Linked DNA regions of Homo sapiens: regions 1 and 2 are each reported to be linked to region 3. Evidence: microRNA targets listed by miRTarBase, many of them from high-throughput screens and not tested one by one. Region 3 holds a microRNA gene; each other region holds the end of a gene's coding sequence.

Evidence for each region. Region 3 holds the annotated microRNA hsa-miR-548d-5p (AAAAGUAAUUGUGGUUUUUGCC, at 2,980-3,001, shown strand). A microRNA usually pairs through its seed, bases 2 to 8, with sites in the 3' UTR of a target mRNA and lowers its output. Matches are read on the target gene's strand: a 7mer-m8 pairs with bases 2 to 8, a 7mer-A1 pairs with bases 2 to 7 and ends in A, and an 8mer does both.
Region 1: miRTarBase lists ZMYND8 as a target of hsa-miR-548d-5p. Seed matches in the 3' UTR shown: 7mer-m8 at 1,454-1,460.
Region 2: the mRNA of NPM3 is a reported target of hsa-miR-548d-5p. The part of its 3' UTR that is shown has no 7-base or 8-base seed match.

The regions. Positions count from the first base shown.
Region 1 is chr20:47,206,988-47,211,048 of GRCh38, reverse strand. ZMYND8 (zinc finger MYND-type containing 8) reads left to right here. Exons shown (of 23, transcript NM_001281775.3): 23 at 152-1,835. The coding sequence ends at 288. Among named protein-coding and RNA genes, the nearest start is that of MIR3616, 42 kb to the right of the region's middle. RefSeq lists enhancers at 1,604-2,227, 2,228-2,853 and a silencer at 3,670-3,964.
Region 2 is chr10:101,778,309-101,782,369 of GRCh38, reverse strand. NPM3 (nucleophosmin/nucleoplasmin 3) reads left to right here. Exons shown (of 6, transcript NM_006993.3): 4 at 19-112; 5 at 516-643; 6 at 738-1,045. The coding sequence ends at 634. It also overlaps a transcript of FGF8 not described here. Among named protein-coding and RNA genes, the nearest start is that of NPM3, 3.1 kb to the left of the region's middle. RefSeq lists enhancers at 924-1,218, 1,097-1,947, 2,025-2,154, 1,795-2,692, 2,693-3,590, a silencer at 2,375-2,454 and a promoter at 1,064-4,061.
Region 3 is chr17:67,470,476-67,474,540 of GRCh38, reverse strand. MIR548D2 (microRNA 548d-2) reads left to right here and starts at 2,956; the gene lies at 2,956-3,052. All of the region lies in intron 1 of PITPNC1 (phosphatidylinositol transfer protein cytoplasmic 1), which reads right to left. MIR548AA2 (microRNA 548aa-2) reads right to left here and starts at 3,052; the gene lies at 2,956-3,052.

The DNA of each region.
Region 1 (4,061 bases), not on the chromosome of region 3:
AGATGCAGGGCAGTCAGCGGTGGCAGTGTTTGAACCATCAATTGGGAGGGGAAGGTGGTTTCCTGTGCAGGAGGGGCAGGTCAGATTGCAGGATAGTTGTGCTCAGGCGCAGGTGGGCAGGCACGCTAAACACATTGGTTTTCCCCCTCAGACCATTCCCGGAGTAATAAATCCAGTTGGAGCAGCAGTGATGAGAAGAGGGGATCGACACGTTCCGATCACAACACCAGTACCAGCACGAAGAGCCTCCTCCCGAAAGAGTCTCGGCTGGACACCTTCTGGGACTAGCAGTGAATCGGGACACAAACCACCCACCCCATTGGGAGAAAAACCCAGACGCCAGGAAAAGAAGAAACAACAAAGGCAGGAGAACAGCCACTTTCAGACTTGAAAATGACAAAACCCTCAGTTGAGCCTGAGCCCCCGGCGCGGGGGCTGCTACACTACAGGACACCCAGCATCGGCTTTGACTGCAGACTGTTCACCCACACGAGCCCTGTGCTTTTGGTGTAAATAATGTACAATTTGTGGATGTCATTGAATCTAGAGGACTTTCCCCTTTTTATATTTGTATTAACTTTAACTTATTAAAAAAAAAAAAAGAAAAAGAAAAACGATTTAAAAAAAAAAAAAAAAGCAACCAACCCCAACAACAAAAAAGAATGTTTTGGTATTGGAGAAGGGATGGTCAGTTAGCCTGTCTGTCACACGACGGAATGGATACTGGGCCCGGGGACCACTTTCATACTCACGTCCTCATCCTTGGATACCCAGGGGAGGGCGAACCGTTTTCGCTCGTGTGTCTGTACGCAGCATGTTGGGATCGGGAGTTTCGGCACAGACTATCCCATCAAGCCGTTGGCTCCTTTCAGCTACTACGTTACCACGTTCCTAAAACGCAAGCTCTCCGGACCAGACGGACACAGGGAGAAGCTAGTTTCTTTCATGTGATTGAAATGATGACTCTACTCCTAAAAGGGAAAAAACAATATCCTTGTTTACAGAAGAGAAACAAACAAGCCCCACTCAGCTCAGTCACAGGAGAGAACACAGAAAGTCTTAGGATCATGAACTCTGAAAAAAAGAGAAACCTTATCTTTGCTTTGTGGTTCCTTTAAACACACTCACACACACTTGGTCAGAGATGCTGTGCTTCTTGGAAGCAAGGACTCAAAGGCAAGGTGCACGCAGAGGACGTTTGAGTCTGGGATGAAGCATGTACGTATTATTTATATGATGGAATTTCACGTTTTTATGTAAGCATGAAACACAGGCAGTATGAGAGAAAGCAAGGCCCGTCATGCTGTCCGTACACTACGTATGCTGTAGAGCCATTTTGTATGTTGTGTAAAACAAAAAGCATTGATGAAAAAGCAAAAGGTGATGTATGTATATGAGAAAATTAATTGTACGATATCATTCCAGTACGTTTTGTTGTACATTTTAGTCTTGTTTACTTTCTCTTCATTGTTAAGAGGATGCGAACTGTACAGTTTCCAGCTAGTTACCCATATTAGAGAAGAAATAAGAGAGTATTAGAAGAAAACAGGAGAGAAAGAACATTTGTGAATTGCAGTTGTCAAAAAAAAAAAATAGCCTAGCTGGCCTTATTTGTGAAGCATAATTGCTTTTAGCATATGGAAGTATTTTTTCACATTTTCTTTGTATAAAATTTGTATTAAACTTAAATATCTTTTTGATGGTGGTGTTTCTTTGTGACTGAGCCAGTAGACTCACACTATATGCTTTTTTGGGTTTGCCCGTTCCTTCCCCCACCCCCCCAGTTTTTTCAGATTTCTTTACCTTTTTTTAATTAAACTGTTTTGGAAAAATGCCGTGGTCGTCCTCGAATTTGCAGTTTTCCATTTGGTCGGGATGGCTGTGTCAGGTTTGCACGACCAAACACAGAAGGGGCCGTGAGAGGTCATGAACACCCCCCACAGCCAGGTGGTGGGCACACTGGAGAGAATGGGCCCTAGTGGGTGCCCCCCACGCCAGTCCTCGTCAAACAGTTGGGAGAGGACGGAGTTGTCTTCTTGAAGCCCGTAGGGAGGCCGAGCTAACAGGCCTCGCGTGGGCAGCAAGGATCCCAGCCCCTCGCAGGTGCCCTGGTCCATGGCTCTGGGCCTGGCTGGAGGTGCACAGGGTATGAGTAGAATGAAGCCGGCTTGAAAGGCTGAGGTTTGGTTTCCTGGGCAGCAGTGTTCCTTCTCTGCAATCCAGTAACTCCCCAGAAAAGATCTCCACAAACCCCTTCCTGTGCCAAGGGCCAAGACATGACATGGCCGGCAGGGGAGGTTGGCCCGCGTGGGCATAAGTTCATTCCTGCCAATCAGCAAACACACATCGCGTCAGGCACTGTCCAGGCACTGAGGATCCCATGGTGCCATCAAGGAGTCGGGTCCCTGCCTTCATCAAACTTGCATCCTAATGGGGACAACAATCGTTCAGTTACTCAAGTATTACAGGGGACCTGTCATTAGCCATGCACAGTTTCAGTTACTGGGGACAGATGGTGAGCAGGGCACAGGAGCCCTGTCAGGGTGGGCCTCTCATTCTTCACAGGAAGACAGACTGTCTACAAGTTATTCTCATTTTTTGTTTTTTTTGAGACGGATTCTCGCCCCGTCACCCAGGCTGCAGTGCAGTGGCGCAATCTCAGCTCACTGCAACCTCCGCCTCCTGGGTTCAAGCAATTCTGGTGCCTCAGCCTCCCAAGTAGCTGGGGATTCAGATGTGCACCACCATGCCTGGCTCATTTTTTGGTATTTTTAGAGACGAGGGTTTCACATATTCCCCAGGCTGGGCTTGAACTCCTGACTTGAAGTGATCTGCCTGTCTCAGACTCCCAAAGTGCTGGGATTACAGGTGTAAGCCATGGCACCTGGACTCTCCTCTTTTTTTGGAGGGAGAGTCTCCATCACCCAGGCTGGAGTGCAGTGGTGTGATAGCTCACTGCAAACTCAGCCTCCCGGGTTGAAGCAATTCTCCTGCCTCAGCCTCCCGAGTAGCTGGGATTACAGGTGCCTACCACCCATGCCCAGCTAATTTTTGTATTTTTAGTAGAGATGGGGTTTTCGCCATGTTGGCCAGGCTGGTCTCGAACTCCTTGTCTCAGGTGATCCACCCACCTTGGCCTCCCAAGTCTTTTTTTTTTTTGAGACAGAGTTTTGCTCTTGTTGCCCAGGCTGGAGTGCAATGGCGCGATCTTGGCTCACTGCAACCTCCGCCTCCCGGGTTCAAGCAATTCTGCTTCAGCCTCCCGAGTAGTTGGGGTTACGGGCATCCACCACCACACCCAGCTAATTTTGTATTTTTAGTAGAGATGAGGTTTCTCCATGTTGGTCAGGCTGGTCTCGAACTCCCAACCCCAGGTGATCCGCCTGCCTCAGCCTCCCAAAGTGCTGGGATTACAGGTGTGAGCCACCGTGCCTAGCCTCCAAGTCATTTTTTTAAGTGAGAAGAATGTTAGCTTCCCGTTCCTGGGCATGTGTGTGCACCTTTCCTCTGTTGTCTCATTTCATCCTGAAGACCAGAGAAAGGAGGGGCCATGGCTACGAGGGGTCATCCATTGTCTTCTTTCAGCTCCTGCCTTTCTAGTCTCAACTGCACTCTCTGCTCCTTTGACCTGATACCCTCTTCTGTGGCTGGTACCTGATTCTTCAGATGTCACTCCTGAAATAGCCACCTGCCCACGGGCCCATCATGCCCTCAATATTTTCTTCATATCTCTGAGCAAAGGGTGTGGGGTTTTATTACTTCTCCTGTGTGTCCCAGTTGAATGTGAGCTGGGTGAGGGAGGTGCTTTCTCTGTTCCCTGCTGTGTCCCCAGGGCTTGGACACAATGAAGGTCATGCCACTCCTAAGTAGCGAGCAGCCAGCAGCTGGGCTCCTAAGTAGCGAGTAGCCAGCAGCGCAGCATTCAAATGCAGAGGCCACCTTGAGGTGTCCCACTGCACCCCCATCCAGCCTCTGCCGCAACCTCCCTTAGAAGCAAAGACATCTAGGGAAGTGGCTTGCTTACTCGAGGATAGAGAAATGGTTGCTTTTAGTTTTACCAT
Region 2 (4,061 bases), not on the chromosome of region 3:
TCCTTGTCTTCCTCCCAGCTCAGTCTGGATGACTTCCAGCTCCAACCACCTGTAACCTTCCGCCTGAAGTCGGGCTCTGGCCCTGTGCGGATCACTGGGCGGCACCAGATTGGTGAGAAGAGGGGAGGGCCCTCTCCTTTGCTTCCAGTGGACTCTCCCATCAGGCTTCCCCCACTCCGCACTCCTGCCCCATCCCACCCTCATCTCCCAGTGCAGCCCTGTACAGGTCTGTGTGCCCTCCACGCTGTGCCCTGTGCATGACATGCCCTCTCCTTTCCGTCTACTCAAGCCTACCTCCTCCATGGAACATGGCCCAACTTCTCCAGCTCCAATAATGAAGACTCCTTTGGCTCTTTGTGACCCAGTTTAGGGTCTGAGGTTCTTCCCACCTAGCCCATAAGCACTGGGAGGTCATGGTCCCTGTAAGCCTAACACCACGGCGTGAAGAAATGGCATGCGGTGTGAAACGGTCTGGTCTTAACACCCCATCCTTCTACTGCTTGTGTGTCCACCAGTTACGATGAGCAATGATGTTTCTGAGGAGGAGAGCGAGGAAGAGGAAGAGGACAGTGATGAGGAAGAAGTTGAGCTGTGCCCCATCCTTCCTGCCAAAAAGCAGGGGGGCAGGCCCTAGCCCTCCTAGGTGAGTTGCGGGGAGAAGTGCCTAGCAGGCTCTGGGAAGGGGCAGGAGAAGCAGGTGAGGGCCTAAATGCTGATTCCTTGTTTCCTCTTTTCAGGTCAGCTCCATGTGCCATGCACCGCCATGCACCCTGTTCCCTGACAAGTTTCAACAATTGTAAATATTTCTTCCTTGAAGAGGAGAGCTTGGGTGGGGGTTGGGTGGGAGGGACTTGGGTCTTTGGTGCTAGGAGAGGGCCTGTGCTCCACACAGCCGTGGTTTTCTGATTTTCACCATGCCCGGGGCCTCCCTTCCCACCTGCCTGTGAGAATTGGAGGTTAGTGCCTGAAGCTCAGAGCTACACATTTTTAATAGTTTTTACATTTTTGGATAAAGGTTGAAATAAAGTGGTGTGGAGTTTTTGCAGCTCTTGTGTGGCTTCTTCCTGTGCTGGGTGATGTTTCCCTAGGGACCGCCAGGTGGCACTGTGGAAGCACCCAGCGTGGCCCTGGGCCTGGGGGAGGGTGGAGAACTGTGGGATCCTCTACCCTCATGGCCCTGGGCTAGGACCTGGGGCCTGGGCCCCAGTTGCCTTGCTGGAAGGGGACCTCCCAACACTCAGCCCATTCCCAGTCTCTGCAGGTGGGAGAGGGTCATCGCAGGAGGTTATCAGCATCCAAACAAGGGGTCTGGGCCTCTGTCAGCACTCGGCTGATGGGCAGGGGGGCAGATAAGCGAGCTTAGGCAGCCTGAGGAATGCGCGTCCCTAGCCCCACGAGGGTCTCTGGCCCAGAGAGGGCCTGTGAGGGCAGGGCGGGACCAGGCTTCGCTCCTCCTTTGAGCCTTGCAGGCTGTCTCTGAGCAGGGCTGGGCCCTTAGAGAAACCTGACTCCGGGGGCCAGATGGAGGGGACTGGCCAGATTGGGTGACAGGGAAACCAGAATCCGGGTGGCCTGGCATATGGGGGCAGAAAGGGGCCCCAGGGAATTTGCCTCCTGGACTAAGGGATTCTTGTCCCCCACACACCGTGGGGTCTGGGGGTCTTTGGTGCCTGGAATCAGGTAGTTCTGGCACTTGGCTGCCTTTGTGCCAGGAAGAACTGACACACCTGGTTTGAGGATGAGTGTATGTGACCAGCTCTGGGGTCAGCAGTTCAGCAGCTGTGTTGGTTGTGGGGGGAGGGTTGTCAATGCCCACAAACAAACAAACAAACAAAACATTGCCTCCCCAGACAACCTGGGGCCAGACAGGCTGAGGATAGACAGAGAACAGGGCCTGATGGGGGTCAGGCCAACTCCCACTCCCAGCCTCTAGTCAAGGGGGAGGGGCCCCGGGATATCGCGGGCTGGTGGTTCTGGGGCAGGTGAGGTCAGCTTTGAAGACCTTGCGTCCGCAGTACCGACCCGCACGCTCTTCAGCGCATCCCTAGTGAAGGAGGTTCTCCCCCAGCCCGTGGTGAGGAACTAGGGGTCCAGTTTCCAACCTCCCTCTTCCTCAAGTTGAGGACAAAGGGAGATGACGCCCGTCTGTGTTGCGGTGATCTGGGTCGCAGGCGCCTTTCTCCGATCCAGGAGGGCGCTGCTAAAAATGCTTCCCTGGGGAGCCCGGCGGAGGGGCGGCCTGGCTGGGAACCATGGGTCTCGCTGCGGAGCGCGGTCGGCAGGGAGAGGGAAGTCGGGGCTGGCGCCCTCTGGCGGGCGAGGTTGAAGCCGCTCGTGGTCGTACCGCTTCCCTGGCCTCTAGAGGCTCCGGGCGGGCGCCGTGGGGCCGGGGCCTCCGAGTCCCGCCACTGCTCTGGGCGGCCGAATCTTGGGCGGAAGGCGGGGGAATGCCACTGAGGCTTGCATGCATGCGTGCATACGTTCATTCATTCATTCGAACGACTTGAGTTGGAGTGGGGAAGTCTGGCTGTGGCCCTCACTCCTCTTTCCCTTCCTCTTCTTGGCCCCAGCCTCCAAAGTCCTCGGCACGTGCTTGGCAGGAGGAGCGGGAGACTGGCTGAGTCCTCTCTCCTGGGAGGCCTCCCTAGCTGACCCATCTACCCCCTGCGCGGCTCCGCCCCAATATTTACCCCACCCACCCCCCGCGATGCCACTGATCGCTCCTTGCATTTCTCGCCGGTTTTCCGGGTAGGTCTCCCGGTGGGCGCGGGCCTGCGCCGAGCACGCTCCTGCCCGCAGTGGGGGCCCAATCCACATCAGCCTCTCGGCCCAAGAGTTTCTCGGCCGGTTGGGGCGCCCCGCGGACACAGCTGGGCAAGGTTTATTCCTCTCTCCTCGCCCCAGCCTCTCCTCGAGCCCTCTTCTTTGCCCTTCAGCGCACAGTAGGAGCGCTGCCGGCTCACTGTGGCCTCAGACCCCTGGGGGATGAAGGCATACGCCGGGGTTTGCCGACTGCTGGAGGAAGGGCAGGCTTCTATTTGGGGGCCGAGGGAGACGACTCCCAGACAGTGGCCGAAGTGCTTAACGTAGTCTCGGCGATTTGCATTTGAACGGTCGGCAGTGAGTCCGCGGCGCTTTGAACGCCCGGCGCAGGAAGCGCGCGTCGGAGCGAGCTGCGGTCTCCGGCGGGTGTGGATTGGAGGGGCCGGGGGATGGGCTGGGATCGAGGGGTGCGTTTGGAAATAGGCTGAAGTAGTGTGTCTGGGTGCAGGCGAGGGCGTGTCTGCGGAGATGGGCCGTTTGTGTTGGCGAGGAGTGTGTGTTTGTGTTTGCAGGCGAGGGAGTTTGTGTCTGTGCGTGTGTGTGTTTGTGTTTGCGGAGTGTGGGGGCGGCCAGGAAAGGTGGCCGGGCTGTCACTCAGCGATCAGGTTGACAGGCGCTCCCTCATCTGGGCCAGGGAGCTCTGATTGCAGATTCGAGGAAACAAAATAGCAATTGTAATTACCGGGCTTTGATAAGATAAAGGAGGGAGGGAGCTGGCCGGGAGGCGGGCGAGCCAGCAAGGGAGGGAGCGGCCTGCGGGGGCCCGGCGGGACATTTGCATCTGTCAGTCACGGGGCGTGCCAGGGCAGAGCCAGGTGCTTGCTCCCGGGGTGTCCCCATCTGCTCCTCTCCCCCAGAGAAACGGACTTTTGGGGAGATGAGAATTTCAACGAACTAGGTGAGGGTCCGCTTCTCAGGAGGGTCTCCAAATCCAAATGTAAAGGAATCCTGGTCCAGCACAGGCTCCCTGGCAGAGGCTGGGACAGGACTGAAACTTGACCTCGGACCCTTCAGATCCCAGGACGCCCATCTTCTCTGGGGCAGAGGAAGAAGGGTGGCTGAAGACCATTGAGGGTCAACCCAGGGCCCTCAGAATCTTCTGGGGGTTCCACAGCTGGAGCTGAATGCTGGTCTCAGCCAGGGGCTCTGCCCCTACCCCCATTCCAGGGAGGGGCAGGTACCCAGAGTGGCTCTGGCTGTGACCCCAGGACCATGCAAACACTGTTGGATGGGCGGGT
Region 3 (4,065 bases):
CACTGCTGGGGAAACAGGAGAGGGCACTAAAGCATCTAGAGGGTAGAGGCCAGGGATGCTGCGACACAGCCTGCAATGCACAAGACGGCTCCCACAACAATGAATTATCTGCTCCAAATGTCGGCAGGGCTGAGGTTGAGAAACGTTACTCTAGAGGCCAGGAATTTTGGCCAAGACAATTAAAATTCCAAAAGTCAACTTCCCATTGTCGTCACAGAAAACATCTTGACGGAGAAGACAAAAGCTAATTAGTTGGAACTCCTTCAAGTTCTCCTTCCTGACATGGAAATCGACCCTCCCAAACTTTCCTCTTACCCATTTGTGGGAACAGGGTGTCCCTTGTTTTTGCCAAGACCCCCACCTCCGGATCTCCTTCTCACTGACCTTCCTAGGAACTTCGCTCCATCCACCGCCCATTCCTCCCCCAGCATCTATGCTCCTCCTCCCCACACCTCCTGCTACCTGGCTCACAGTTAGGTTAACTTAAAGTAGTCCATTTTCCCATCTTAAAAACATCTCTCACCCAGAGAATAAAATAAGTACTTGTGAGTCCACACTGATATAAATAAATGAGAGGATAGATAAACAAATACCTGGAGAAGAAACAAATTTCCCTTACAGAAGAATTCCATGTAATAAAGGCAGAAGGCATGGGAGAATAGAAAATCACCAGGAGAACATTACAGTAATAATAGCTGCAGGCAGGGTCCACTGAGGAATGTTAAGTTCATGGGCAAACTTTAAGGGGAAACAGGATACCTGCATAGGCTCAACACATCCCTCCAAAAACATTTATTAGCCAGGTGAGGTGGCATGCACCTGTAATGCCTGCTACTCTGAAGGCTGAGGCATGAGCATCACTTGAGCTCAGGAGTTCAAGGCCAGCCTGGGAAACATAACAAGACCCCATCTCCAAAAAATATTAAAAAGCACACCAGGGCCGGGGGCGGTGGCTCACACCTGTAATCCCAGCACTTTGGGAGGCTGAGGCGTGCAGATCACGAGGTCGGTGAAACCCCGTCTCTACTAAAAAAATACAAAAAAATTAGCCGGATGTAGTGGCGGGCGCCTGTAGTCCCAGCTACTCGGGAGGCTGAGGCAGGAGAATGGCGTGAACCCAGGAGGTGGAGCTTGCAGTGAGCCGAGATTGTGCCACTGAACTCCAGCCTGGGCGACAGAGCGAGACTCTGTCTCAAAAAAACAAGCAGGCCAGGTAAAGTGGCTCACGCCTATAATCCCAGCACTTAGGAGGCCGAGGTGGGTAGACAGCTTGAGCCCAGGAGTTCAAGACCAGCATGGGCAACATAGTGAGACTCTATCTCTAAAAATAAGAATAACTTTTAAAATAATAAAAATACATTAATTGGCCGGGCACGGTGGCTCACACCTGTATTCCCAGCATTTTGGGAGGCCAAGGCGGGTGGATCACGAGGTCAGGAGATCGCGACCATCCTGGCTAACATGGTGAAACCCCTTCTCTACTAAAAATACAAAAAAATTAGTTGGGCATGGTGGTGCGCACCTGTAGTCCCAGCTACTCAGGAGGCTGAGGCAGGAGAATGGCATGAACCTGAGAGGCAGAGCTTGCAGTGAGCCGAGATCAGGCCACTGCACTCCAGCCTGGGCTACAGAGCAAGACTCCGTCAAAAAAAAAAAAATACCACATTAATTATGGTGCTGGTTTTAGCATATGTCCACAAATTCTTTGAAACCCCTCCCTGTAGGAGGCAGGGCCTAATCTCCCTCCCCTGAGTGACTCACTTCTAATGAATAGACGGTAAGCTTGTCCAACCCGTGGCCCAGGACAGCTTTGAATGTGGCCCAACACAAATTCATAAACTTTCTTAAAACATTATGATATTTATGCACAGACCTTTTTTTTTTTTTTTCTTTTGAGACAGAGTTTCCCTCTGTCACCCAGGCTGGAGTGCAGTGGTGCAATCTCGGCTTACTGCAAACTCCTCCTCCTGGATTCACACCATTCTCCTGCCTCAGCCTCCTGAGTAGCTGGGACTACAGGCGCCCACCACCACGCCCGGCTAATTTTTTCTATTTTTAGTAGAGATGGGGTTTCACTGTGTTAGCCAGGATGGTCTCGATCTCCTGACCTCGTGACCCACCCGCCTCGGCCTCCCAAAGTGTTGGGATTACAGGTGTGAGCCACCGCACCCGGTCCTTTTTTTTTTTTTTTTTTTTTTTTTTTTTTTTAGCTCAACAGCTGTCATAGTGTTAATGATGTATTTTATGTGTTGCCCAAGACAATTCTTCTTCCAATGTGTCCCAGGGCAGCCAAAAGATTGGACACCCCTGGAACAGAGTATGGAAAGGGAAATTAGCAGCTTACGGTGGGTAACTCTGGTAGACAACGCCTTAACCAAGTGATCAAGGTTAACTTCACCAGTGAGCAATCAGGTAGATATCATGTGCCCCCTAATATTATGTGATGAGAAGGCCATTTCACCTCTGGGGTATTCTTTCCCCAAACCCCAACTGCAGTCTAATGATCAGAAAACATCAGACAAATCCAGATTGAGGGACATCCTACAAAATACTTGACCAGCCCACTTCATAAATGTCAAAGTCATAAAAAAACAAGGAGAGACAGAGAAATTGACATAGATTGAAAGTGACTATTATGATATAATAATTAAGTGCAACATTATATCCTGATTAAATCCTGGAACAGAAAAAGGACATTAGTGGAAAAAACTGGTGAAATCTGAAGAAAGTCGGGAGTTTAGTTAATACAACTGTGCCCATGTTAATTTTTGAGTTTTGATAAATGTATCATAATTAGTACGATATTAACATTGGGGGAAGGTGGATGAAGACTACGGGGGGTTCTCTGGATTTGCAACTCTTCTGTAAATCTAAAGTTAACTTTAGGGGGTATATGATGTCAACCTGATTTAGCTAAAGTTAACTTTAGATTTACAGAATAATTGCAAATCCAGAGAGAGGGAAGATTTAGGTTGGTGCAAAAGTAATTGTGGTTTTTGCCATTGAAAGTAATGGCAAAAACCACAGTTTCTTTTGCACCAACCTAATAAAATAAAAAGTTTAAAAGGAAAAAAATCTCTCAAATGAAGACGTAGGTCCACACAAGGACTTGTATGTGAATGTTCATTGCAACTTTACTCAAAATCATCCAAAACTGGAAGTAACCCAAATGTCCATCAACTGGTAAATGAATAAACAGACTGTGGTATATCCATTCAGGGGAATGCTACTATGCAATAAAAAGGAACAAACTATTGATACATCCAATAATATGGATGAATTTCTTTTTTTTTTTTTTTTACATTTTTTTTTTTTACATTTTTTTTTTAATTTATTTTTTTATTGATAATTCTTGGGTGTTTCTCACAGAGGGGGATTTGGCAGGGTCATGGGACAATAGTGGAGGGAAGGTCAGCAGATAAACAAGTGAACAAAGGTCTCTGGTTTTCCTAGGCAGAGGACCCTGCGGCCTTCCGCAGTGTTTGTGTCCCTGATTACTTGAGATTAGGGATTGGTGATGACTCTTAACGAGCATGCTGCCTTCAAGCATCTGTTTAACAAAGCACATCTTGCACCGCCCTTAATCCATTTAACCCTGAGTGGACACAGCACATGTTTCAGAGAGCACAGGGTTGGGGGTAAGGTCACAGATCAACAGGATCCCAAGGCAGAGGAATTTTTCTTAGTGCAGAACAAAATGAAAAGTCTCCCATGTCTACTTCTTTCTACACAGACACGGCAACCATCCGATTTCTCAATCTTTTCCCCACCTTTCCCGCCTTTCTATTCCACAAAGCCGCCATTGTCATCCTGGCCTGTTCTCAATGAGCTGTTGGGTACACCTCCCAGACGGGGTGGTGGCCGGGCAGAGGGGCTCCTCACTTCCCAGTAGGGGCGGCCGGGCAGAGGTGCCCCTCACCTCCCGGACGGGGCGGCTGGCCGGGCAGGGGGGCTGACCCCCCCCACCTCCCTCCCGGACGGGGAATATGGATGAATTTCAAAAACATTGTGTTGAGCAAAAGAAGTGAGACACAAGAGACTACATCTGTATGACTGCATCTATAG